Linked DNA regions of Homo sapiens. The protein of the gene in region 5 purifies or fractionates together with the protein of the main gene of each other region. This does not show direct contact. Each region holds a gene or a part of one and is shown on either strand. Other genes may lie near its edges. The genes, in order: TAF8, BAZ2A, IMPACT, EPS15L1, BTBD8, LYSMD2 and RBM26.

Region 1 (3,500 bases), on a different chromosome or scaffold from region 5:
GACCCAGAGATTTGTAAAAAAAAGTGGGAGCAGAATGGTCCGTCAGGAGCTCCCTGAATTGCCTGTGAGCTCTAGCAAGGCCTACACCCTCTGTGGTGACTGCATCCAGTCTCCCAGCTCTCAGTGCCATCTCTACGCCAACAGCTCCCTGGAGTACAATGCCAGCCCTAACCTCTCCCGACTTCCAGGCTCATGCAGCCAGCTGCTCACTCAGCATTTCCACTGGGGTATCAGGTAGGCAGTTCAGACTTCAGGCACCTAAGTCTGAATTGGGGACCTTCCCCTGTGGTGTAAACGGCGCTTCTCAGTCCCTCCCATCACAAGTGATGGCAACTCCATCCTTCTAATGGCTCGAGTCACAAACTCTGTGGTCATTCTTGCTTGTTTTCTTTCTTTTATTTTTAAACAGGGTCTCACTATGTTGCCCAAAACTGGACTCAAATTCCTGGGCTCAATCTTCCTGCCTCAGCTTCCCAAGTGACTGCAACTATGGGCATGCACCACCACACCTGGCACACTCCTTTTCCTTCACTGACATCCCATACCCAATCTGTTAGCACAGCCTCTTGGACTTACCTTCAAAATTCAGGCAGGCACTGACCACTTCCACCACCTCTGTGGCAACCACTCTACTTGGGCCCACCACTGCCTCTCGCCTAGGCTATAGCGACAGCTTCCTGACTGATCTCTCTAGTCCGTTCTTACCGAGCCATCAGAGTGGTGCTTTAAGAAGCTCAGAAACATCCCTCCTCTGCTCCACGCCCTCCCACAACTCCCATCTCTCTTAGTTAAAAGCCAGCTCTTAAAATAGCCTACAAGGCCCTACCCAATCTGACCCTCCCTCCCACAAGCCACTCACTATTCCACAGGGCCTTTGCACTGCCCATTCCCTCTGCCAGAACACTCTTCCCCAGATATCCACATGGCTCACTCCCTCACCCATTTCAAGCTCCTGCTCAGATATCCCCTTCTCAGTAATGCCTACTCCGAGCACCCCACTTAAAAACTGAAGACTCCTCCTCACCCTGGATCTTCCCCTACTGTTTTTCCCCCACACAGCACTTTCATTTCTGATATACTATGCAACGATTTAGTCATATATTGTGTTTGGTATCATTCTCCCACAGCCAAACTCTGCTCCTAAAAGGCAGAGGTTTTCTTTGTTTTTCTCACTGCTTTATCCCAAGCAGCCAGAAAAAATATCTGGCACATACTAGGTGCTAAATAAACACTGGTTGAGTGAGTGACTGGTATATTTTTCATAAAAGAGTAAAAGCTTAGATATCTGGGTTGGCTGCAGAGAGCAGCTGGTTCAAATGTGTGAGAAAAGAATCTATTATACATGAATTTAAATTATACATGAATTTAAAATGAATAGCTCCTTTATGTTCAAGTACATGGAGAAACTAGAACCAGGTTAAATAATGTACTGCCTAACAACAGACCTTGAGAGGTGCACTCTCATCAAGAGATAAAATAATAATTTAAAATACCTGTTATTGGCTGGGCGTGGTGGCTCACGCCTGTAATCCCAGCACTTTGGGAGGCTGAGGCGGGCGGATCACGAGGTCGGGAGATCGAGACCATCCTGGCTAACACGGTGAAACCCCGCCTCTACTAAAAATACAAAAAAATTAGCCGGGCGTGGTGGCGGGCGCCTGTAGTCCTAGCTGCTGGGGAGGCTGAGGCAGGAGAATGGCATGAACCCGGGAGGCGGAGCTTGCAGCGAGCCGAGATCACGCCACTGCACTGCAGCCTGGGTGACAGAGCGAGACTCGGTCTCAAAAAAAAAAACAAACAAAAAAACCAGTTATTTACTTTGCTATAACAATGTCTGTAAATGGTAAAGACAGAAAACAACCTAAGTGTTCATGGGGGACTAGATAAATTAAATGGTTACATCCATACAATGGAAGATAAAGTAGCTGTGAGGAACGATGCGCCTCCTCCCTTACAGATGTGGAATGACCGCCAAGATACAGCCAGGAAAAAAGCAAGAAGAGAACAGTTTGTGATCTGCTGTTTCAGTTCAAAATAACAATTTAAAAAAATGTCTCTAGAAGGCTACATAAGAGGCTGGTGAGACAGTTGCTCTGTGGGAGGGAAAGTGGGTAACAGGGAACAGGATGGGAGGGATTGTCACCATACATCTTTTTGCACACTCTGCATTTTGAAACATATGATTGTATTTCCTAGTCTAACAAAATAACATTAGGTCCAACTGACTGTAGTAAATTGTCACTAGAATCTTTGTCTTGGAGTCATTTGATTTTATTTTTCACAGAAGGGCATATGGTTAGATAGCCTAAAACAGCAGGGGAGGGAGCAGTGTGTGCTAGGAGCTGCCACATGCCAGGCACCTGATAGATACCAGCTCTGTCTCACGCTCCCCCTGTCCCTTGAGGTAGGTGTTTCTGTTTCTACTTACAAGAAAATAGACTAAGGCGTAAAGTAACACAATCACGGTCACACATGTGGCAAGCAGCACAGCCTGGATTTGAAGCTAGGCAAGTCTGACTCTAAGACTCAGGCCTTCCTACACTCCTGCTGTCTGCAACCCTGGCTTGGCCTCATGGTATTCAAGAGTCCTCAGGCGGTTGCTGACACTCTTTAGGTTCAATTACCACCATGACCTCACATCACTACGGGACCGTCAGTGAATGCATGTCCAAGCCCTTTAACTATATTGTACTTACAAAGGTATGATGACGTTTGTTTACATGATTCCTCTTTCTCATAAGGTGAACCTCAACTTAGTCCATGACCCAATCACCATATCTCAGCCCAAATTAACAGAAGCGTACAATAACAATTTCCTCTGCTTTATTTAAAGCCATGGTCTCCCAGCCCTAATTCTGAAAGGAATAATTCAATATTTAAAAAAAAAAAAAGTATATCCAGGCCGGGTGTGGTGGCTCACGCCTGTAATCCCAGCACTTTGGGAGGCCAAGGAGGGTGGATCATGAGGTCAGGAGTTCAAGACCAGCGTGACCAACACGGTGAAACCCCGTCTCTACTAAAAATACAAAAATTAGCCGGGCGTGGTGGTGCGTACCTGTAATTCCAGCTACTCAGGAGGCTGAGGCTGGAGAATCGCTTGAACCCAGGAGGCGGAGGTTGCAGTGAGCCAAGATCTTGCCACTGCACTCCAGCCTGGGTGACGGAGCGAGACTCTATCTAAAAAAAAAAAAAAAAAAAAAAAAAAAAAAAAAGTATGTCCAGGCAAATAAGACCTTCAGCAAATAGAGATGACACAGGCATATTCCACTAGCAACCCAGGGTGGCTGGCTGCCATTTGGGGTATCACATCTTAGAGAACATAAGGGATGCTCAGTCCAACTACAGCCACTAAGGCATCCAAACTAGTGCTGATTTTAAAGGATGGTTGAATATGGCAACCTGACTATATAACCCTATTAGCCTTAAGGGCATTCCAGCTTCTGGCGGTTCTGCGATTGTACTTGGCACTTTCTCCAAGGGTGCAGGAACAAGAGGGGGCT
Region 2 (4,231 bases), on a different chromosome or scaffold from region 5:
AATGGTTGGAGGACACCAGCATAGGAGCAGAGTTTAGAACTTAAGAGGACAAGAAAGCTGCTCAGTGGCTGGCGTATAGCTGTGAAGGTAACCAAACACCAAAGAGGGAGTCTGTCATTTTTATAAGGCTGGAAGCGAATGTTCCTTTTCTACCTTAACATACAGTTTAGGGGGTTGCACCAAGACAAAGTTTCCAGGCTGGAGGGTAATACATATCCAGCGCGAGTGAAGTCCCCACTCCAACATATACCCTTTTTGGGTGGGTAAACACCTCTTTGCATGTGGACAGAAAATGTTTATACTTAAACAGACATATTTTGCATATTTTTATCTGGAGACTTCTTCTAGTTTTATACTCTTCCCACATCTATGCCAATGCCACCATTCTAAAACTTACACTCCTTTTCTACCCCTGGTCTTTTCCTTGTCCTTCCCTACAACTTGGTAGAGGTCCATTTTGTCTTACTTCACACTTTTTTTTTTTTAAATAAAACACAAAAGTCTACGTCTTGGTGTCTTATCCGTGAGTGGGAAGTGGTAAGCTGGTGATGGTCCCATATTTGCTATGACAGGAACACAGAGGTGGCAGCTTAGGAAGCTGGGGCCACATCTCACAAGGCAGGACCTGGATGCACTGAATCCCCCTTTGCTCCAGCAACTCAGCCAGACATTTAGGCAGGAGCACTAATGACCCTTTCCATCCACACAGAGGGTATGGAACAGGAGCCCCTGTTGTTCCCTTGCCTGTGGTCTCTTAAGCCAGTCATACCTATCCCAACGCCGTCTCCCCCTCAGGTGTGTAGAAGGGAAGATGAATACACAGAGTCTTTTGAATCTCTATCAAATGTGGTTTTTTTTATTCAACAACTGACAAGCACTTTTCTACAGCTGCACTTGTGGAACATCACATGGCAAAAACAGGAGTTTTTTCGCTAGACTTTTTTTTTCTTTTTAACCTTATTAAAAATGAGATTGGTCCTAAAAATATAGAAAGAAATAAATTTAAATTCACAAAAAACTGTACATTATCAAAAAGTCACTAAAACACCACATTTGGTTATATAAAAAGTCCCTTTTGCTGTAAAAGGAACACAGAAACTTGTTGGTGTTGATGGTGTGGTTTCTTCCTGTCAACCAGACTGATGGGAGGGAAGCAAAAGGGCAGGGGGTGGGTTGTCTTTTTATTTTAAACCTGCTTTCCCTACCAAATACTCTTGTCATGAAGAGAAAATCCACCTAGCTCAAGGGGGCAGTGAAGATGAGGAAAGAAAAGCAAGAAATGGCCCCTTTGATCATGCCCTATCCCTACCACCCCCAACCCCGCTCCAGCCCCCACTTCTTCAAACTGAGGCTAGGACCCCACCCCGCCATATGAGTGCCTGGTCCCTAGGGAAAGAGATGGAGCTGGGAGAGGAACACAAAGCAGGAACCATGGAGATTTCACTCCCCCATCCACCTCACAATTTCACTCCCCCATCCACCTCACAATGAAATTAATCTAGCACATCTTATACCAGGGGAAAATTGCCAGGGGGAAAAAGCAGAGCCCCCAACTCTAACAGTTTCAACTGTCTAACACAAAGTTTGTTACAGCGCAGTTATTTAGATAAAATATAAATATTTATGCATAATATAAAGTCAATTCAAATATTCTTCAATCCACCTCTTAAAAGCAAAAAAAAATCTCAAATAAAATTAAAAGTTTTGAGGTTTATCTGACAGAAAAGGCGACTTTAGAAATAGGCTATGAGGGAGAAGGGGCATAAAGGAATAAAGGGGCTGCCCCAGGACCTACACTGCCCCTACCCCCTTCAGTGGCTCTTCAGTGCTGCCAGAATACAAGGAATGCTCCACCTCACCTGGCACCCCCACCCCCCAATGGAACATTTCTTGGATGCCTCAGCTCTCTGCTTGGGCCAGCCAGCAGCCACCTCCCCAGTGCAAGTACCCGTAATCTCTGAAGGGAGGGGCTCTGCTGAGCAGGAAAAGCAGGGGGCCAAGTGCCCATGGCTATAGCTGGGAGTCAGCAGCTTTCCTCTCGTGTTGGGGGCTTAACTTGGACATAGTCACATGTAGGGCAGTGATGGACCCAGAACCCCTCCTCCCTACTCTCCTGTGCTCCAGGGTCTCTGCTGCTGGGGAAGGGGTCCTGGGGTATGAAGTAAATGAAGAAAAGCACAACTAAATGGGATTAGGAAATGATCCAGTTCTACCACTCTCCCGTAGAAGCTTAAGATTCAAAGCTACCGAGAAGAGAGGGAGTTCCTGCTGAAAGATTGCACAGTCTGAAGAGGCTGGAACAAAAATGACCAGGAGAGAGACACAGCCTTGTCTCCAGAGAAATTGTTCCTGTGGTTTCCCAAAGACAAAAAAGTGATGGTTTTAAACAATGGGAAAAATGGGAATGAAAACAGGTACTTGGGGAAACTGAATGGATCCTATCAAACAATACAGGGTCACAAGCACGCACACACACACACACACACAGCGCGCGCTCTGAGGCTGACACACACACACACACACACAGCGCGCTCTGAGGCCGACACACACACACACACACACACACACACACACACACAGCGCTCTCTCTGAGGCCGGCCCCATTGCTACCTGGCCTCCATCTTAGGGTGCACCCAAACTCAGCAGTAGTTGTCCCTGAGGAGTTCCCAAGAGGGTTTGGGAAGGAGGTGGGGAAGGAGGCTGGAAGGCCCAGGAAGCCTCCCTGCCCTCTCCCCAGCTACTGAGTTTCAGAAAAGGCTGGAAACTCAGCATGTGAGGAGCATCCAACATCATACAGGGGATAGCTATCGGCAGGAAGATGGGGACAGAAGACAGGGACCTCTGAACATTTTTTTTTCCTTTGAAGGGAAAAGATTTGGGAGAAGAGAAAAGGAGGGAGGAACCCGTACACGATAGTTTTACATTATTGGATGAGAGAAAATCTGAAAACTGGGGGGTGGGAGGTGGGAAAAGAAAGACAGCGAGAAGCAGGGAAGGGACTGAACATGGAAGCAGCATGTCCAGGGCCCGGTGTCCGGCGCGACACACTTGGGAGTTAAGTCCACTTTACTGGCCGTCACTGCGGGTCCGCACACAGTACAGAGTGTTTCTTGGTTTCACACATTCACTAGAACTATTGCTATTGTTAAATAACCCCAGAATGCTGGGGCACGTACAGGGGAGGAGAGGAAGCAGGGAGGAGGAAGTAGGGACGACTTTCCCCCTCCCCATTTTTAATTAGCAAATAAAACAGAAAAGAAAAATTATTTTTTTCTTTCTTTTTTTGGCTTTTAGTCCAGAAGGACCTCATCTCTGCACCTCTTACTTGAGGAGCAAGAGGAGGGAAGGGAGAAAGGGATGTAGGAATAAGAGGATGTGGGGCACTGCCAAGGGCAAGGTCAAAAATCAGGGTTGTATCTGACTTGAGTCTGGACCCAGGGCAGCATCAGCAGGTGAAAATGGCAGGTTTTTGTTTGGAAGGTGGGGGGAGATGCCACAAGGTGACTCCCCACCTCCCTTGCCTCACAGATTGGCCTGTTTTCCCTGATAAAACTCCTCCCAGCGGCTCTCGAAGAAGCGGCGCATGATGTGCCCAGCCTTGCCTACTTCAGAGTCATCCTCGTTGAAAGTCTGGCAGTTGTCAAATACCAGGAGGGCATCAGCCGCAAACTCCTCTGAGCTGGTGTACCTGGACAGGGCAGGGGCAAAACTGTGAGCTGGGTAGGAGTTGCAGCAGTAGCAAAGACCGGGCGGTTCACCCACATCTACTTACCCTCCCCTGAGCAGCCGCTCCCGCATGGTGGAAAAATCCATAGGATTTTTGATGATGCGCCGGTACCCACTCACCAAACGTGGGTTCACAGGCTCTAGGAAAGGCCAGGCTGCATCATGGGACTCCATCTCCATCAGGATAATCCTATCATTAGAGGGACAATGATGGCTCCATCTCAGGAAGCAAATATACTGACCCCTCCCAGCCCTTTCCTCTGGCAGAGGTAGAGCCAACTGTCCCCCCAGGATTCACTCAACTCACTCGCAAAATGTGAGATCACTGTGGTGGTTCCGCATAGAGAGTCGCCGCCGCTTGGAGGGGGAGAGCCCTTCTTCCGAGTACCGAGGCCCTGCTGCTGGGCTTTCTCGGCCCCTCAACAGTACCCGGCGTCGGCGGCCATCACCCTCTGAGAAGTTCAGCGAATAACCACTTTTCCGCTTCTGGCCACGCTTTGGGAAA
Region 3 (3,362 bases), on a different chromosome or scaffold from region 5:
TATGAATATATGTGGAATATATATGTGTAAATATATTCTAAGTGATTAGATTGAAGATTTCATCTTTATGTAAATGGAGAGATGCTGCACTGATTTGTGTCTTTTTCAGGAGGAGTCATCTAAGGCTTTGGGAAAGAACAAAAAAGTAAGAAAAGACAAGAAGAGGAATGAACATTAATACCTGAAACTATAGGAAAGGTTAATTTGCCTATAATTATATATACATTCCATAGTCATCAAGGAATATATTGTGCAGAGAGAGTATCCTTGACTGCTTAAGTCAGCCAGTTCAGCATGGATACCAACATTAGCTTTTCTTCTTGGTTATATCATCTGCCAAAAATAGAGAACTTATGATCTATTCATGTGTGTTTCAGGCTTATTTGGGAGAACTAATTTGAACTTAATCACCACTTCATCTAATTTTAGCAAGGTAACAGTTGCCCAGGGCAGTACCTGAATTAACTGTCCATTTCAGTACATGTCAAGTGCCTTTGTTAGGTGGAGAAGAAATGTCTCTAGAGGAATATAAATACCTGATTTCTTGTCATCGAGATTCTTGTACTGTTAAATGAATATTGCCTTTTACTGCTCTTTATGGCTTATTGGAATAGGAGCTCATTTAAGATTGATCTTGGAGAGTTTCTTCTTGTGATTTTAGTTCATAAGTATGTCACCTTTCATTTTATAGTGTTCATCATTGAGTAATGGATTAAGTGAAAATCCAGGAGTATCCATCTGCAGTTATGTGCTGAGGTGATAATTCATCCAACATATTTGTTAGCATAAATATTATGCTTCAGTTTCTGTTGCAAATTGGTGATTGTGAAATTACAGAAAGTGATTTTCTAGTCTGCTTTTTTTGTTTAATTCTTGTAATGTAAGCAATAAATATGGAGTGTCAGTAGTCTCCTTCCACCCCAGAAATGTGTTGGTGTAACATTCTCGTTTCTTTTAACAACCTGGAAGTACCTTTCTTGTGATCTTCACTGAGGAATTAGAACTATGATAGAAGTTAGGCTGTGGCAAATGGGACATTCGTAGAGTGGGATAGAGGTGGCAGAATGAACCTGGTGTAGGGCAGGAGTATGTTGTGTAGTTACATCAATTTGATGCATGCTTTCCATCTGCACTCCAGACGGCTTTCTCAGTTCCAAGATTTTGCAGAGAGAAGGAGCAAACCTTTTCATTGGAAAAACAGAAACAACCCTCCCCCCCATTTTTTCCCCTCTATTCATCAAACCTTTATGTATCTTTCATCTTCCAGTTACCTCTAGGCATTTAGATAGTGAAATTTACCTTTGAGATATAACAATAAGTGATTAACTGTTCACTTTCAGATGTAATGGCAAACAATTGTTAAAAGTTATTAACTGATCACAGATTTGCCTGGACTTCCCTTCCCAGGGAGGGAACAGAAGTTAGGAGGCAACTTTGGGATGGTGCTAGAGCATGGAAAGCACAGAGAATTGGACAAACAGGTCTTTTTCTCTTTTCTCTGATGTTTTACCTTTAAAAGATCCAACATCCTTACCGTTGGTATTTTTAGTAAGGTTATAGTAAATAGCTTTACACCAGGATGGATTCTGAAATATAAATTCTAAATTATATTTGTTATAACTATATTTTATGTTGTATGTTATCAGGAGCCATCAGAGAATGACCTTTTTGTGTTTGGAACACTTGGTTCCATGAAAAGTATGCTTTGTGTTTTAACTGTTAAAATAATTTAAAAATTAATTATTTTACATAATTAAAGAAGTTAAAAACTATTAACATTAAATAATTTCACAATTTCAACATGTCAAACCTATGAAGGGAGATAGGAAACAATGAGAAACTTACTTTTGCTCCTTTATACAGAATTATTAACTATATTTTACTAACTAAAAAACTCTAGTATTCTTTACCTAAAGTCAATTGGCTGGTAAGAGGGAGAGATGCAAAATTCTCCAGCTCTGAACTTGGAGCTACTTCACACTCTACTCTTAATGGAAACTTGAACTAATGATAGATAGTATTTTTTTCCTCTATTTAAAATTTTTGTCTTGATTAGGAGATTTTTCAGTTCTCCATATAATAATTTTCTACAATCAGATCTATGCTGTGGCATATTTTGCTTTATTTAAAAATTTTTTTTTAGAGATGAGTTCTTGCTCTGTCACCTAGGCTGGAGTGCAGTGGCATGATCATGGCTCACTGCAGCCTTGACCTTCCAGCCTGCCAAGTAGCTGGGATTACAGACAGGCATGTGCTATTACACCTGGCTAATTTTTAAAGTTTTTTTTGTAAAGATAGGGTCTTTCTATGTTGCCCAGGCTCGTCTTGAGCTCCTGGCCTCAATCGATCTTCCTGCCAAGGTTTTGGAATTACAGGTGTGAGCCACCATGCCTGGCCTGCTTTGACATATTTTATAGTGTGTTAATTACAAATAGTCTTCATATGCCAGAATATAAGAGCAAGTGTTATCTACTTTTTAGATGGGAATTGCAGAAGCTGCATCAAAAGTATGCTTTGAGGTATATATAGTGAAACAGAGCCTTTCTGAAGAGAATTATATCAAACTAATTACAACCAAGAAATAATAGTATGAAGCGGATGCTGTTTGGAGGACAGGAAAATTTATCGGGAAAATTACATAATCCCTCTGATTCCACTATCCAGAGATAGCCATTATTATTAATATTTGGTATGTACATCCTTATATTATTTTTTTCTTATGCATGATTTTGTATATATGGTTATTTTTCTTTCCATAAAAATGGTATTAAACTGTATATACTGTTTTGTAGCCTACATATTTCATATAGAAGTATATTGTTAACATTTTCCATGTCAATAAATATTCTTCTATGGCTTAAATGTCTTATGACTGCATTGTATTCTGTCTTCTCAGTATTATACTAACTAGTCCTCCACTTATTTCCAATTTTTAAGTTTTTTTCAACTTTTCACTGTTATAAACAACTGTGAAAACCTACATCATTTGCAGATTTTTGTATGTATCTTTGATTATTTCTTTAGGAAAAGCTCCTAGATATCGAATTTCTTGGTCAAGGTTTGTACATTCTAATAGCTTTTGATTAGTTGAGTCAGATTGTCATCCAGGAAAGTGTTATCAGTGATTGCTCCATTAATATTGTGTTGGAATATTTAATACCAGCCAAAGATGGGAAAAAATAGGCAGTTTGCTTGATAACTCCCAAGATCCTTTTTAAAAAAGTAAACTTTTTGGCCAGGCACAGTGTCTCACGTCTGTAATCCCAGCATTTTGGGTGGCTGAGGCAGGCGGATCACTTGAGGTCAGGAGGTTGAGACCAGCCTGACCAACATGGTCAAACCTGTCTCTACTAAAAATACAA
Region 4 (3,500 bases), on a different chromosome or scaffold from region 5:
TCCCAGCTGCATGAAAGCCGCCAGGAGGCCCACAGGAGCCTGGAGCAGTATGACCAGGTGCTCGATGGAGCCCATGGTGCCAGCCTGACCGACCTGGCCAACCTGAGCGAAGGCGTCTCCCTGGCAGAGAGGGGCAGTTTTGGAGCCATGGTAAAGGTTGAATAAACGTATTACAGTATGGGGCTCTGGTCCCCTGGTGTGACAGCAGAACATCCCACCCGCCAGATCTGTTCATGGCCAACGTTGGTTCCAGCCAAGTGCAGGCGGCTGTCTGTTGTTTTTGCTGCCACTTTGCGCGTTCACACCAGGCCTTGCAGCCTGGCACAGGTGGCCATGCTGAATCCTGGCTTCCAGAACAAAGTCCAAGATAGGCCTGGATCCTTTCAGAACCTGTTTTGAATGCCCTCCATCTCTGCGGAAGTATTTACATTGGGCCAACCACCCAAGTTCAGAGGGCTTCTCAAACTTAACCAAAATTGGATCAGTTTCTGCTCATTGTGGAAACCCCACATTCTACTAATCAGGGGGCAGGGGACATCTGAGGGGCATGTGTCTATGTGTATGTGTGTTTCCACAAGGAACACCTTGAAAAGCAAATGTGTTGCTAAAGATGAGGAAGTAATGGCAAGCAGCGCCCCAGGGTGTTGCTCTTTCAAGTAAGAATTGGCCTCTCCTGAAATTTTGGTTATGTTTAAAAACCTCTGCACTTTACTCTGACCTCATGACCCTGGAGTTGTGATCAGGCCTGGGGCAGGGGACTGTCGGCCCCTTACATTTTTGAGAGCTCTTGAGCCCCTGATACCAAGACAGGTGTGACCTTTTCCTTAGGTGGTCACATCCCCCCTGTTCACACCAGAGTCTGCCCCTGCAGCCTCGAACCTGGGGACATGTAGTTTCCCATTTCGTCTTGGTGCTGTTCCGGGAGCGGATGGGCCGGGCCGCGCATGTCTGGATGTTTCCTTGGTGCTCTGCTGCCTCCAGCAGCTCTCTCCGTGCTGCCACCCTCTCTCCCAGGGCTCCTCCCTGGAGCCCTTCTGCTCCTGGGCCTCTGTACGTCATGGATTCCTCTTCCTCCCTGGAATAAGAGTGAGCGCTCGTGCTCTCTAAACACCACACTTGCCTCTTTATGTTCAATGCTTGATGTGTTTCTTTTCTCAGCAGCCAAGTCCTCAGTCCCAAGGATTTATGGGGAAGCACACGCGTCCCCTGGGCTGCTGGGAAGGCACTGCTGGCGAGCTCATCTGTCTCTTGTGTCTGGCCCCCGCTGGGTGCACCGCCTCCCTCTTTCCTCCCATACTCTCTTTTCTCGTGGACTCGTAATGAGGTGGTTTCCATAGCCGCCCCCGGGCCCGTCATCATCAGCTTTATCGTCTAAATTTAAACGATGAGCATTCATCCTTCATGAGTTACGAGAAGCCAGAACTCCTCGCTTTGCTCCCTGGCTGTTCTTGGCGTGTGTGTTTCCGTCTCACAACCCGGCTCCTACTTTCCCCATCTGGCATTGTCCCCTGGCACCGCTTTTGGCTTGTCCTGCTCAGTCTTCGTTCAGGGAACAGCTTCCTCTTAAATGTCCCTTTTGCAGGTTTTTAGAAACCGGTTTTCTTGGATAAAAGTTGGCAGTGAAGTGGCAGTTTGCAAGTGGCCAGTGATTCCCCCAACTCCAAAGACAGATTTTTACCTTTCTGGTTATTTTTGTTCATCTTTTGGGCAGGGCAAAGGTTACCTGAGACACAATTACTTTGGGAATGTAGATTAAGATACGTTACATGGAAACTTGCAACTGGCATCCGAAAGAAAAACTGTTTTTATCCTGTTGTACAAATACAGTTTTTAAAGCATTTTTCTGGCTTGTTTCTATTTCTTAATAAATACTTGGAAGAGAGATTTTTGTTTACTCCTGAACACTTCAAGACTGCTTCAGAGCCGAGAGAGAGGTGTCTTAGTTCTCCCTTGTGGGTCGAAGTTGGGGGTTTTAGGTCCCTGAGAATAGTGTATCCACAGTGGTACATCTGGAACTTCCTATGTTTGGACAGTTCTACTCAGGTTACTAAATTCCATGTGAAGCTCACGCAGTGTGACTTTATCTCAAAAGTCAGGGGTTTTTTTTTTTTTTTGTTTTTGTTTTTTTTTTTTTGAGACGGAGTCTCGCTCTGTCTCCCAGACTGGAGTGCAGTGGCACAATCTCAGCTCACTGCAACCTCTGCCTCCCGGGTCCAAGTGATTCTCCTGCCTCAGCCTCCCGAGTAGCAGAGATTACAGGCACGTGCCACCATGCCCAGCTAATTTTTGTATTTTTAGTAGAGACGAGGTTTCACAGTGTTGCCCAGGCTGGTCTTGAACTCCTGACCTCAGGCAATCTGCCCGCCTCGACCTCCCCAAATGCTGGGATTACAGGCGTGAGCCACCTCACCCGCCAAAGTCAGGGTTCTTAAAGCCATATTTATTTCTTGTCTATCATCTGATTATGAGAATATTGACCTCTTGCTCACCATCCAATCAACTTATGGAGAGAAGCTAATAAATCATCCCAGACTTAGGCCTTACTGAGGACAGATTAAGAAAGGTTGATTGATCTGTCACATCCAGACCCAGTGGCATGCTGGAGCCAGTTTTTATTGACTTTCCAGAACCGATTATTAAATAGGAACTGGCCGGGCACAATGGCTCACACCTGTAATCCCAGTCCTTTGGGAGGCTGAGGTGGGAGGATTGCTTGAGGCCAGCTGCGTGCCACTGCACTCCAGCCTGGGTGACACAGCGAGACTCAATCTCTAAAAAAAAAAAAAAAACCCCAAAAAGCAAAAAACAGGAACTTGTGAGCTAGTTGCTTGGAAACTTGAAATCAACCATGATGAGACTGTTTACACCACAGGAATTGGCAGAAGCTCTAAACCAGGGCTTTTTTCTGAGAGAACTGATTCCCAGCACACCCCTGCTGCCCAGCACTCCTCTAAAGGGCGGGAATGTCACAGAAGCTTCTTCAGCCCCCTTTCAGAGTTGCCGTGTGTATTTCCTAAGAAGGGTACAACTTCACACTGGTTGCTGAACTTGTTCAAGATATTACATCTCTGCCAAGGGCCGTGTCATTCATCCTGGCCCTTGTCTGCTGTACTCGTGTCCCCCAAGTTGGCAGATGGGTCTGTTCTCCTTAGTAGGTGGTCTGCAAGGGGTAGAGTTGATGGTATCTTTGTAACAGGGAAATCTCGTTTCCCACTCTGATTCTGTGCAATGGAATCAAAACCACTATTAGTTACCCTGACCTCCTGAATCCTGCTGGGGTCTCAGGCTTCCCCTTGGAAGGGGAAGGAGTGATTGTGGCTTCAGGCCAATGACTCCTGAGAAAGTGATTGCAGGCCTGACTGTCAGTGCAGGGGGCTTGCAGCCAGCATTCCCAGAACCTCAGTCTCTTCTCTGCCATTGTTCACTGTTACTTGGCAGTCTTCCAAGTGACGACTGAAAACACTGAAAAAAAAAAACCTTATAAATAAATGCCAATTAAA
Region 5 (3,500 bases):
TCCACAAGGAGGGTAATAATAAAAAAATACAGAAGATAACAACAAATGTGCCGAGGATGTGGAGAAACTGAAGCCCTTGTACATTGCTAGTGGGAATGTAAAATATTATAGCCAGTTTGGAAAACAGTTCAGCAGTTTCTCAAAAGGTTAAACATAGTTACCATATATATAATCCAGCAATCCCACTCCTAGGTATATACTCAAGAAAAATAACACAGGTTCACAGAAAAATTTGTATATACGTATTATAGCAGCATTATTCATCATAGCCAAAAAGTATTAATAGAAACAATTTAAATGGCAACGAATGGATTAACAAAATATGGAATAGCCATACAATGAAATAATATGCAACAACAGAAAGAAATAAAGTACAGAATGAAGATTAATTTAAACTAGTTTCTCCCATTATTTAGCTGATGACAATTCTGAGTTCAAACATGAGTCCCCAAAATTACTAAAAAGTCAAATTGATGTTCTGTTCTCAAAAAACAATTTGACCAAATACAAGTTACTATGGTCTGAATGTTTGTGTCCCCCCAACCCCAAAATTCATATGATGAAACTTAATCCCCAATGTGGTGGTATGAAGAGGTGGGACATTTGAGAGATGATTAGGTCATGAGGGCTCCATCCTCATGAATGAGATTAGTGCTCTTATAAAAAAGACCCAAGAAAGTTTGTTTATCTCTTTTGCCATGTGAGGGCACAGAGAAGACGCTATCTTCAAGGAACTAACCCTCACCAGGCACTGAATCTGCTGGCACCTTGATCTTGGACTTCCCAGGCTCCCGAACTGTGATCAATACATTTCTATTGTTCACCAATTACCCAGTCTAAGGTATTTTGTTATAGCAGCCCAAATGGACTAAGACATAAGCCATGAGAATAAAAACAGTTATGACGTTATATTTTTATAAATATACATACTTTAAAGTTTCACATGCCAACAATACAGAGTGAGTACGTAGCAACGGTTCTCAAGAGGGGGCAATTAGGACCTCCAGAGGACATCTGGCAATGTCTGGAGACATTTCGGTCACAACTAAACATCCTAAAATGCACAGCATTGTCCCCACAACAAATAATTATACAACCTGAAATGCCAGTAGTGCCACTACTGAGAAACCCTGGAATAGAATAATTCATTTAAATTACTGGAGAGCACACCATTTCCCTTTTCTCAGGATCAGTCTTAGGTTAATGCTTAGCCTCTACCAGTACTAAGCTAATATTGTACTACCAGTACTAAGCTAATATTAGTACTACTAGTACTAATATTAACACTTAGCCTCTGTCAACACTAATTACTAAGATAATTTGGAATTTAAGTGAATGGATTTTTCTTATCAGGTTACAAAATACATATGAAAATATATTAAATAAAAACATACATGTTAAAAATAAGCAATTACATATTAGACTTACATGGATAAAGAAAGCACTTACTGTAAAAACGTTCTAAATTCTAAAGCTTCAACATTCTCCACAGCAATAGGCTCCTGATTTGTTAAACTATTTGATGTCTGTCCAATAGTATGAAAATAGAAGTCAGGAACTCTTGCTAAAAGGACTGCTTTGTGTGCTTTGAACAAAGTACAACCCACAGAGAAGGTAACATCTGTATGGAATTCTTCCCTTAGAAGCCTATAAGGAATAAAAAGGAATCATAGTTTAATTAGTGATACTAAAAAACGTATACATATTTTTATAAAGTAGGTTTAAAATAACACATAAGCTAAAAAATACAGAGGCAACATAAAGTTAATACAAAAATGAGTTTGTTCTCAGTTCATTCCAAAAAACATTGTTTAACATTGGCTTAGAGCCTAATTTTCTAAAATTCATAGTGAAAACAAAGACAATTTCACTAAAAGAGTAAGACTACTGTTTCAAAATATTTACTTATGAATTCCTTCTGATAATAAAAAAATATTTTCTGCTACTTATGTTGATTTTCCTTTAGATATACTATCTTCTTTAGATTTATTTTTAAAATGCAAAGTTGACATGATCATTAATTATTTAAAATAATCAATTTTTTAAAATCTTACTTAAATTGAAGCAAAAAAAAAGTTAATAGTTAATGACAGCAACAAACCACACATATCAGTAGAAAATTCAGGTTAGAAACTGGTACTTAGTTCTGGCTAATGTTAATTAACAAGTCTGAAATCCAGGTGTGGCTGTCAAAAATGTGACATTTACTCTCTTTTCCAGTCTCCCACTCCCACAAATAGAATTATGCTCTAATCTATCATTAAAATGATGGATTCGTGATCCTTTCAAATCCCTTTGCTAATGTACAGATATAGTTCTTGTAAAGCCCACTGATTACATGTATACGTGAGTGATAGAAGAATAGAAATCAACATAATAGAAAATGTCATAATATAATCTTTTGCCTCTTTGCAGTAACTATTTTACTCTCTAAATATTAAATAAAACTTCATATCACTATAGCAATATCATCAGCAAGGTATGCATTCTCAGAGGACTTCTGTATTACAGGATATATAAAACTGGCAATAATACCAGTACACTACAGGAGGTACAAGTAACTGATAAAGATACCCATTACAGTGAAAGCTTGGAAAGCAGCCAATGACATTCATACTCCCCCAGGACCAAGTTAATGGCTCCTTCCTCTAATCCCATCACATTCAGTACATACCTCTATTATAGCATTTCTGTCATTGCATCATTATTATTTTTACATGTCTTTCTCCCCACTAGACAATGAACTCCCCACGGACAAAAACTGTATCTTCAGTATACAGCAAGAGTTCAGTATCTTCTTATTAAATGATCCTATTTTACCCTAGACAAAACAAATGCTTCAGAGCATAAAAGCTTTCAGAACCTTGAAAATAATGGCCAAATAGATGCATCTTAGTTTGGTCAATATTTTCAATAAATTATTTTCATAAGTAATTTTTAAAGTTACACAAAAATGTGTTGGACTCTCAAACTTTAATTGAAATAGAAACTCTACAAACACTCAATTTGTTCTTTCCTCCCACCCTCCTTCCCCCCATCCCACCCCTCAAGTGAATAAGGAAGCACTGCAGCTGGTAGCCATACAACCATCAGGAGGGAACCCACCTTGTTGCTAACAGATGCTCATGAGTACTTGCTAAATGGAAAAAAAAAAGTGTGTATAAAATTGTTAATGTGAAAATACAGTGTTTTTTATTTGATAGAACCATTTTTATCAGTTTCAAGTATATTTTGTTATGTTACAAATCTGAAAATCTGACTTAGACTGGCTTAAACATTAAGGAGTTTATTGGCCCATCGAATAGTAAAGTCCAGAGGAAGGACAGACTGGAGAAGTCTCAATGATGCCAAGGCCCAGCTTCTTTCCATCTCATATCTTTGCCCACTACTGTATTCACCTATCTTAGTCCATTTGTGCTGCTATAACAGAATACCACAGGATAGGTAATTTATAATGAACAGACATTTATTGGTTCACAGTTCCAGAGGCAGGGAAGTCC
Region 6 (3,500 bases), on a different chromosome or scaffold from region 5:
AAACAGTTGACCTTAACATACCATGTCTGTCAATCTTGCACAGATGAGCAGAAACTCTCAGGAAAGCCTGTCTCTCCATGGCAACTCCTCAGCCACCCAGCTGGGTGTCAGGCAGGACTTCAGTCCTTTGGTGGAAGACTGATTAAGAGCCAGTCGTAGTCTAGGTACAAGGAAGTTCCCAGAACAGAGACTCCGACAAGGGGGTGAAGATGGAGACCTGGTTGCCAGCCCTGGATTACAAGGGTAACAAGCTGGGAGCCATTTTCTGAAGTGGTGCTGAAGGGCTGGCAGCAGGGCATATCTCAGGATGTGAGAATAGATCCATGTTCCTCAAATTGGCCTGGGCAGGACAGGAATACTCTGGGGCAAACTAAAAATAAAGGATCCTAGCTGACATTGGATCTATGGGATTGGAATACCCAGAAAAGGAGTCTAGGAGTCTCTGTTTTGTTTGTTTGTTTGTTTTTGTTTTTGAGACAAAGGCTCACTTTGTCACCCTGGCTGGAGTGCAGTGGCCTGATCTTGGCTCACTGCAACCTCCGCCTCCCGGGTTCAAGCTATTCTCCTGCCTCAGCCTCTCGAGTAGCTGGGACTTTAAGCACACGCCACCATGCCCGGCTAATTTTTGTATTTTTAGTAGAGATAGGGTTTCACTATGTTGGCCGGGCTGGTGTTCAACTCCTGACCTCATGATCTGCCCACCTTGGCCTCCCAAAGTGTTGGGATTACAAGCGTGAGCCACCGCATCTGGCCAGAGTCTCCATTTTTAACAAGCATGGCTGCTTTGCTTGTTCCCAAAGCACTGTTCTTCCTTGGGGTTCTTGCACTTGCTGTTCCATCTGTCTTTCTCTAATAGCTGGATACAGGGCTAGCTTCATGGGCATGTGACCTGCGCAGTCACAGAAGACCCCATGCTTAGAAGGGCCTCACACTTGGTTTAATGCTCTACTGTCATCTCTTGAAATTTTTAATAGTTTGTGAACAAGGGCCTCACATTTTCATATTTTTTTACTGGCCCTGGGCGAATGATGGAGCTGATTCTGGCTGAGTGATTTGTTCCCTCATTGCCTTCAAGTCTTTGCTTAAATATCTCATTCTTAAGGCCTTTTCTGCACACTCTATGTCAAATTGTAGCCTTTCTCCCTAGTCCCCCAGCGCTCCTCCCCAACTTCCCTGCCATGTTTTCCTAACAGTATTTATCATTCATCCAATTTTTTTTCTTTCCCTCAGAGCTACCTTTCTGGTGATACAATAGTGAGTAAATAAAAATCCATGTCCTCATAGAGCTTATATTTTAGTTAGTGGAGACAGTAAGTAGAAAAAGAAAATGTATCTTATATTGATAAGCATAATGAAAAAAAAACCAAGCAGGAGAGGGAGTTGGGGAGGGCTCGTGGAGATGGCTGGAATTTAAAATGGTGTGGCCAGGGAAGACCTTGCTGAGAAGGAGGTAAGGGAGGGAGCTGTGCAGATATCTGGTGAAGAACATTCCAGGCAGAAGGAATAACCAGTGGTGCAAAGGCCTTGAGGTGAGAACATAATTGGCACCTTCCAGGAGTACTGTGGCTGGTGCTTAGAATGCAGTGGGGTATAGTTGGACTAGATCACTTTGGACCTTGAAGACCATTGTAAGGGCTTTGTCTTTTTCTCTGAGTTGGGATGCATTTAAGGGGTTTGAGCCGAAGAGTGACATAATCTGACTTGTGTATTAAAACGATCACTCTGGCTGCTGCTTTAAAAATAGTTTGTAGGGAAGCTAGTACCAAGCAAGGAAACCAGATAAGATGGTGGCTTTTGCAGTAATGCAGGTGGGAGAGGATAGCAGCTGGGACCAAAGCAGTAGAGAAGGAAGGAGGTGGTGAGATGTGGCTGGGGTCTGGATGATTTGCTGATATGCTGTAAATGTTCTGCTTGTTTGTTTACTGTTTAGTTTGAATATCTCTCCCCTAGAGATGGGCCTGGGCATCCTGGGGATGGGAAAGAAGAATCTGGAGTTTCAAGAAGCTGGCTAGGCCTGACACCTGATGGACCCAAGTTCTTCTGCTAGTGACTTAGGAAAGATCATTATGACTCTTTCCTACCATCACCTTTTTAGCCATTAATAGCCATTAAAAACTGGCATTCATTATTTTCTTAACCAACTTCTATTGAGTCTGGTTGGTTTGAGGCCTTGGGCTAGATGCTGGGGCTAGAAGGTAATACATGTTGTTCTCTTTTTATTCATGGTGAGTTTTTCAGCTACTGCTTTCTAGTAGTTTCTAGCTACTTGAGAAGCCAGAGAATTTGTTTCATTGATGTTTGTATCTTCTGTGGCTAGCCTGGAGCCTGGCATGTTGTGAGTTCTCCGCATACATGTGGACTTCAGCCACAGGAAAGCTTGACTGGTATGAAGTAGCTAGCCATGGAGCTGAGCGGACCCTGGAAGTCAGGATCCAGGGCAGGGGCTGAGTGAAGAGGTGTGGCCTGCTGAAGACTTGAACTGCAAGATTTGGTTTGAGGCTCATTCTCAAATCTGTAAAAGACTGCTGCCCTTGCTGGTGCTCAGTGTTCATCTCCTCCCCTCCACCAGCAGTGGGTCTTTACATGGAATGACATATAAGTTTAGGCTTGAGCAGCTCTACCAGAGGAAGAGGCATTTGAGGAAGTGGGTCTGGGAAACTGAAACTACTTGGGGTGGGTTGAGTAACCGTTAAATATAGTTCAAACCTCAGACGTAAACTTGCTTGGCCTGGCATTCCCCTGGGTGTGTTTATCTCCACTGAGACATTAAGATTCCTTCCCTAACCCTGTATTCTAGATTTAGCTATTGCTTTTTCAGTGATCCTGGCTCCTCTCAGTTAGAGTCAAGCCTCTGGAGGAAATTGACCAGCTCTAGGCTGCCACCGTGAATTTTTGTGCAGAAACCCTGGAGAAACCTCCAGAGAGCCATATAGAAACTGAAAGTGGAAAGGAGGCAGCCAGGTGGACCTATGATTTGCATAAACTTTTTCTTTTTTCTCTTTGCTTCCTCCAGGCAGCTTGCCTGTCTTTTTCCCTCTCCAGAGGCCACCTCACCCCGCAGTACCCTCAGTTACTTCCTAGCCAGTTTTATTCCCAGGATTTTCTCTTCCTCTGCCAATTAGCTGCTAAGCCAAGTTGTTGCTTAACATTTCCGCTAACGAAAGTTACCTTGCTGAGAAAAGGTGAAATGATTGTCATTTTTGGGGGAATAAACATTGTGATTTAGAAACTCAGGTGCATGTAAATCTTTAGTGTTCATAACTTTAACCCCTGCTGCTGGTGGAGATTGCTGACCCTTGCTAGTTAAAGAGAAGATAACTATAAATAGAGCCACCAAAAGTGAGAGGTATGGCAAAGTAGCCTTTAGTCATTCGGGGTGTTTGTAGATTCTCATTATTTTTTTAAACACCTTTATTGAGGTTGTACACCACAAAATTCACCCATCTTAAGTGTACGATTCGATGACTTTAAGTAAATTTACAGAGTTGTGAGGCCATTGT
Region 7 (3,500 bases), on a different chromosome or scaffold from region 5:
TCTCTGTATGTATGGCATATGTGGGTAGTCATATATCAAATATGACTTGACTGGGATGATTGGGAAAATGGTAGTTTCATTAATAGAAATGTTTAAGAAAAATAAAAGATAGACTTAATATGAAAATAATTTGAACGTTCTGCATAGTGAGTTTTGAGATACCTGTAGGATTTCCAGAGAGAACAAAGAAGTTGAAAATTTAGAATTGAGTATATGCTCTCCTCCTGCAGGAGACCATAGCTGTGGCCATGAGAGATATTGTGCTGAAACAGATCTTCAGTTCTTTTGGTTAGTTAGGTGTTTAGAAATATGTAAAAATAGGATTTTAGACAAATCAATTTTGCCATCTATAAAAAAGGAGTTTTTAAGTTACATTTTTCTATGTGGATTAAGGTTTGCATGTTTTAAACTTTGGAGTCATTTGGGAATAACAGGTTAAATGTACTATGCTCATTACATGCCATGTAAGTAAATATAAAATGTTGAAAGTAACAGACTTTTACAGCTCTTTTACACTGTATTTTAGACTTGAATCTTTTCCTTTTTTAAAGCAAGTATGCTTTCATTACATTCATATTTTATGAGTCTATTCCATATTTAAAAGCAGCTCACTTCAATCATAACTCTAACCTTTCACTTCTCAAAGATTATTGGATTAGTGTAAAGTTTTGAATCTTTTAGATTGTGCATTTGATTTCAAAACTATGAACTTAAAGCCTCAAAGTGATTATTTTCTCATTTGTGCATTGATATATATATATATATTTGTGGTGAGGGTGATGGTAGATGGGAACAATGACTTGGGTTTTATCTACAAAGAAGTGACCTACAGAATCACATTTTAATTTGGCATGTGAGAATTGATTCTTTTTCATAGTTAATTGTGAAATGAATATGTTGAAATAAGTTTGAAAAAACCCTTAGATTACTGTATTTGAATGTACAGTAATTCCCCTTTGTCTGTGGGTGATATGTTCCAAGACTCCTCGTGTGTAAAACCACAGAGTACCAAACCCTACATATACTATGCTTTTTCCTATACAGTCACACCTGTGATAAAGTTTCACTTATAAATTAGACACAGTAAGAGCTAAACAACAATGTCTAATAATAAAATGAAATAATTATAACAATATACTATAATAAAAGTTATGTGAATGGTCCCTGTCTTTCTCTGTCAAATATCTTTTTGTATTTACCCTTCTTGGGATGATAGGGGATGATAAAATGCCTACATGATGAGATCAAGTGTTGGAGCAGGATGGTGTGAGATTTTATCACACTACTCAGAACTGCAGGCAGTTTAAAACTTAGGAATTGTTTACTATTTCTGTAGTTTTCCATAATTTTGGACTGTGGTTGACTAGAGATAACTGAAATCGTAAAAATGAAACTGGATAAGGGGGAGCTACTATACATTTATTTCTATTTCTTCTAAAAAAAAAATTATATATATATATATATATTTAGACAAAAGCCAGAAATTTTCCTGTATGAGGAAGGTATCTATGATAAATAGAAAATATTAACCTATGCTTATTTTTTTCATTTTCTTTTGTTTTAAAACAGAAAAGCCTCCCAATAAAAGCAGTATGAGGATAGTAGTGGACTCAGAATCAAGGAAAAGAACCATTGGTTCTGGAGAGCCTGGAGTTCCTACAAAGAAGACTTGGTTTGATAAGTAAGGTGGCCAGGAAAATTGAGGAGTATAATTGTGCATTGATTTTCAGGATCATTTCTGTATTATTATGACAATATGGTTTGGTTTCTTCCAAAAATGTTACTCTGTTCTGTAAGCAATCCCCAAGTGTGAGTTTTCTAAAAATTGGCAAGTTAGTTGTCTGATGTTAGAAAAGCATTTTCTTACAGAAATGGTGTGGTAGTTCAGGGCATAATTTTTTCCTCTTATCATTTACCCTCCTCCAAAAAACCCACTCTTTAACTTAGACCTGTTGAATACTAGCTATATACAGGATAGTCATGAGCCTCTCATCATTAGAGGAAGGAGGTATAGATCAGACCTGTCAAGAGACTTTCATATGTAGGCAGTTCCTGCTAGGTAGGAGCTAGAAAGGGCTTTTGTGGGGGTTGGAGAGGCTGTCTAGGCATTGAATGGTCAAGAAAGAGCTTCAGATAAAGGGGTAAGGAATCAGAATGTTAAGATATGTGTGAGGTGATTCATTTATAAATAAATCTGTGAAGAGAGACTAGGATCACTTTTAGAGCTTTAACATCTACTTAATAATGGATAGTTTCTAGTTGTTTGTGATTAATTCTGTGATTTAATGCAGAGTAACCTCTCTAGGCCACAGTTTTGTCCTTTCTTCAAGTGTCAAAATGTATTCTTTATAGTTCCAACAATTCTTTTTTTCTTTTTTTAAATAAAGCGGGAAAGAGGTTGAGACTGTCATCAAAGAAAATAAAATTTAAAATCAAATTTAAAACATAAAGTTTTAAGATAGGATATTTTTTAGTAAGCTGACTTTTACAGAATCAGAATAAAGGTTATATATGCAAATTGACTAAAAGAGGATATTGAGACTTTTCCTGATAGGAATGTTAAGTAGAGGTGGATCAGAAGTGGAAAGTAACAAATGATATGGCAGAACCCTTCTCAGTTGGCTTCCATGAAAGATACTAACAGTGTTCATTTGGAAACTTCATTGTTGGAAGAAAATTTAAATTTCCTTTATCAACCAGTAATTTCAGTTTGGGGGAAAATTGAACTTAATTGGATATCTATTTTGTTAAACTTTATTCCCTTGTATTTGGTTAGGGTCAGGATTTATAAATGTATTGACTAACTTGAATTTTGTTTGCAGACCAAATTTTAATAGAACAAACAGCCCAGGCTTTCAGAAGAAGGTTCAATTTGGAAATGAAAATACCAAGCTTGAACTTAGAAAAGTTCCTCCAGAATTAAATAATATCAGCAAACTTAATGAACATTTTAGTCGATTTGGAACCTTGGTTAACTTACAGGTAAGAGCCATGAAATGGTTTTGTTATCTCTTCTTTCTGTTTAGGGAACTTAATGTAATAAGAAAACTACCTTTATAAATAAATATTTTAAGGCTGGGCATGGTGGTTCACGCCTGTAATCCCAGCACTTTGGGAGGCCAAGGCGGGCGGATCACCTGAGGTGAGGAATTCGAGACTAGCCTGGCCAACCTGGTGAAACCCCATCTCTACTAAAAATACAAAAATTAGCTCGGTGTGGTGGCAGGCACCTGTAATCCCAGCTACTCGGGAGGTTGAGGCAGGAGAATTGCTTGAATCTGGGAGGCTAAGGTTGCAGCGAGCCGAGATTGCGCCACTGCACTCCAGCCTGGGTGACAAGAGCAAAACTCTGTCTCAAAAAAAAAAAAAAAAAATTGTTATTCTGAATTGGGAAAATTGGACATGAAATGGAACTCTACCTTTTAGGAAAAAATACAATTTTTAGTGTTTCAATTGATCATATTATCATAAACTTTTTACCTAATAAAGGTTGTCATAAA

Evidence for each region.
Region 1: the proteins of BTBD8 (region 5) and TAF8 purify together in Homo sapiens (affinity purification with mass spectrometry; one large-scale study listed by BioGRID and IntAct). This does not show direct contact.
Region 2: the proteins of BTBD8 (region 5) and BAZ2A purify together in Homo sapiens (affinity purification with mass spectrometry; one large-scale study listed by BioGRID and IntAct). This does not show direct contact.
Region 3: the proteins of BTBD8 (region 5) and IMPACT purify together in Homo sapiens (affinity purification with mass spectrometry; one large-scale study listed by BioGRID and IntAct). This does not show direct contact.
Region 4: the proteins of BTBD8 (region 5) and EPS15L1 purify together in Homo sapiens (affinity purification with mass spectrometry; one large-scale study listed by BioGRID and IntAct). This does not show direct contact.
Region 6: the proteins of BTBD8 (region 5) and LYSMD2 purify together in Homo sapiens (affinity purification with mass spectrometry; one large-scale study listed by BioGRID and IntAct). This does not show direct contact.
Region 7: the proteins of BTBD8 (region 5) and RBM26 purify together in Homo sapiens (affinity purification with mass spectrometry; one large-scale study listed by BioGRID and IntAct). This does not show direct contact.

The regions. Positions count from the first base shown.
Region 1 is NC_000006.12:42,071,024-42,074,523, reverse strand, and holds part of TAF8 (transcription initiation factor TFIID subunit 8), read right to left. Parts: intron 3,178-3,500; coding exon of another isoform or gene 3,056-3,177; intron 1-3,055. UniProt on the Homo sapiens protein: The TFIID basal transcription factor complex plays a major role in the initiation of RNA polymerase II (Pol II)-dependent transcription.
Region 2 is NC_000012.12:56,595,096-56,599,326, forward strand, and holds the end of BAZ2A (bromodomain adjacent to zinc finger domain protein 2A), read right to left. Parts: coding exon 4,034-4,231; intron 3,917-4,033; coding exon 3,773-3,916; intron 3,689-3,772; coding exon 3,523-3,688; 3' UTR 501-3,522; downstream 1-500. UniProt on the Homo sapiens protein: Regulatory subunit of the ATP-dependent NoRC-1 and NoRC-5 ISWI chromatin remodeling complexes, which form ordered nucleosome arrays on chromatin and facilitate access to DNA during DNA-templated processes such as DNA replication, transcription, and repair.
Region 3 is NC_000018.10:24,450,670-24,454,031, forward strand, and holds the end of IMPACT (protein IMPACT), read left to right. Parts: intron 1-109; coding exon 110-178; 3' UTR 179-2,862; downstream 2,863-3,362. UniProt on the Homo sapiens protein: Translational regulator that ensures constant high levels of translation upon a variety of stress conditions, such as amino acid starvation, UV-C irradiation, proteasome inhibitor treatment and glucose deprivation.
Region 4 is NC_000019.10:16,398,971-16,402,470, reverse strand, and holds part of EPS15L1 (epidermal growth factor receptor substrate 15-like 1), read left to right. Parts: coding exon 1-150; coding exon of another isoform or gene 151-165; exon of another isoform or gene 166-1,882; intron 1,883-3,500.
Region 5 is NC_000001.11:92,086,845-92,090,344, reverse strand, and holds part of BTBD8 (BTB/POZ domain-containing protein 8), read right to left. Parts: intron 1,648-3,500; coding exon 1,450-1,647; intron 1-1,449. UniProt on the Homo sapiens protein: Involved in clathrin-mediated endocytosis at the synapse. Plays a role in neuronal development and in synaptic vesicle recycling in mature neurons, a process required for normal synaptic transmission.
Region 6 is NC_000015.10:51,731,156-51,734,655, reverse strand, and holds part of LYSMD2 (lysM and putative peptidoglycan-binding domain-containing protein 2), read left to right. Parts: intron 1-2,795; exon of another isoform or gene 2,796-3,500.
Region 7 is NC_000013.11:79,357,756-79,361,255, reverse strand, and holds part of RBM26 (RNA-binding protein 26), read left to right. Parts: intron 1-1,569; coding exon 1,570-1,681; intron 1,682-2,822; coding exon 2,823-2,982; intron 2,983-3,500. UniProt on the Homo sapiens protein: May be involved in the turnover of nuclear polyadenylated (pA+) RNA.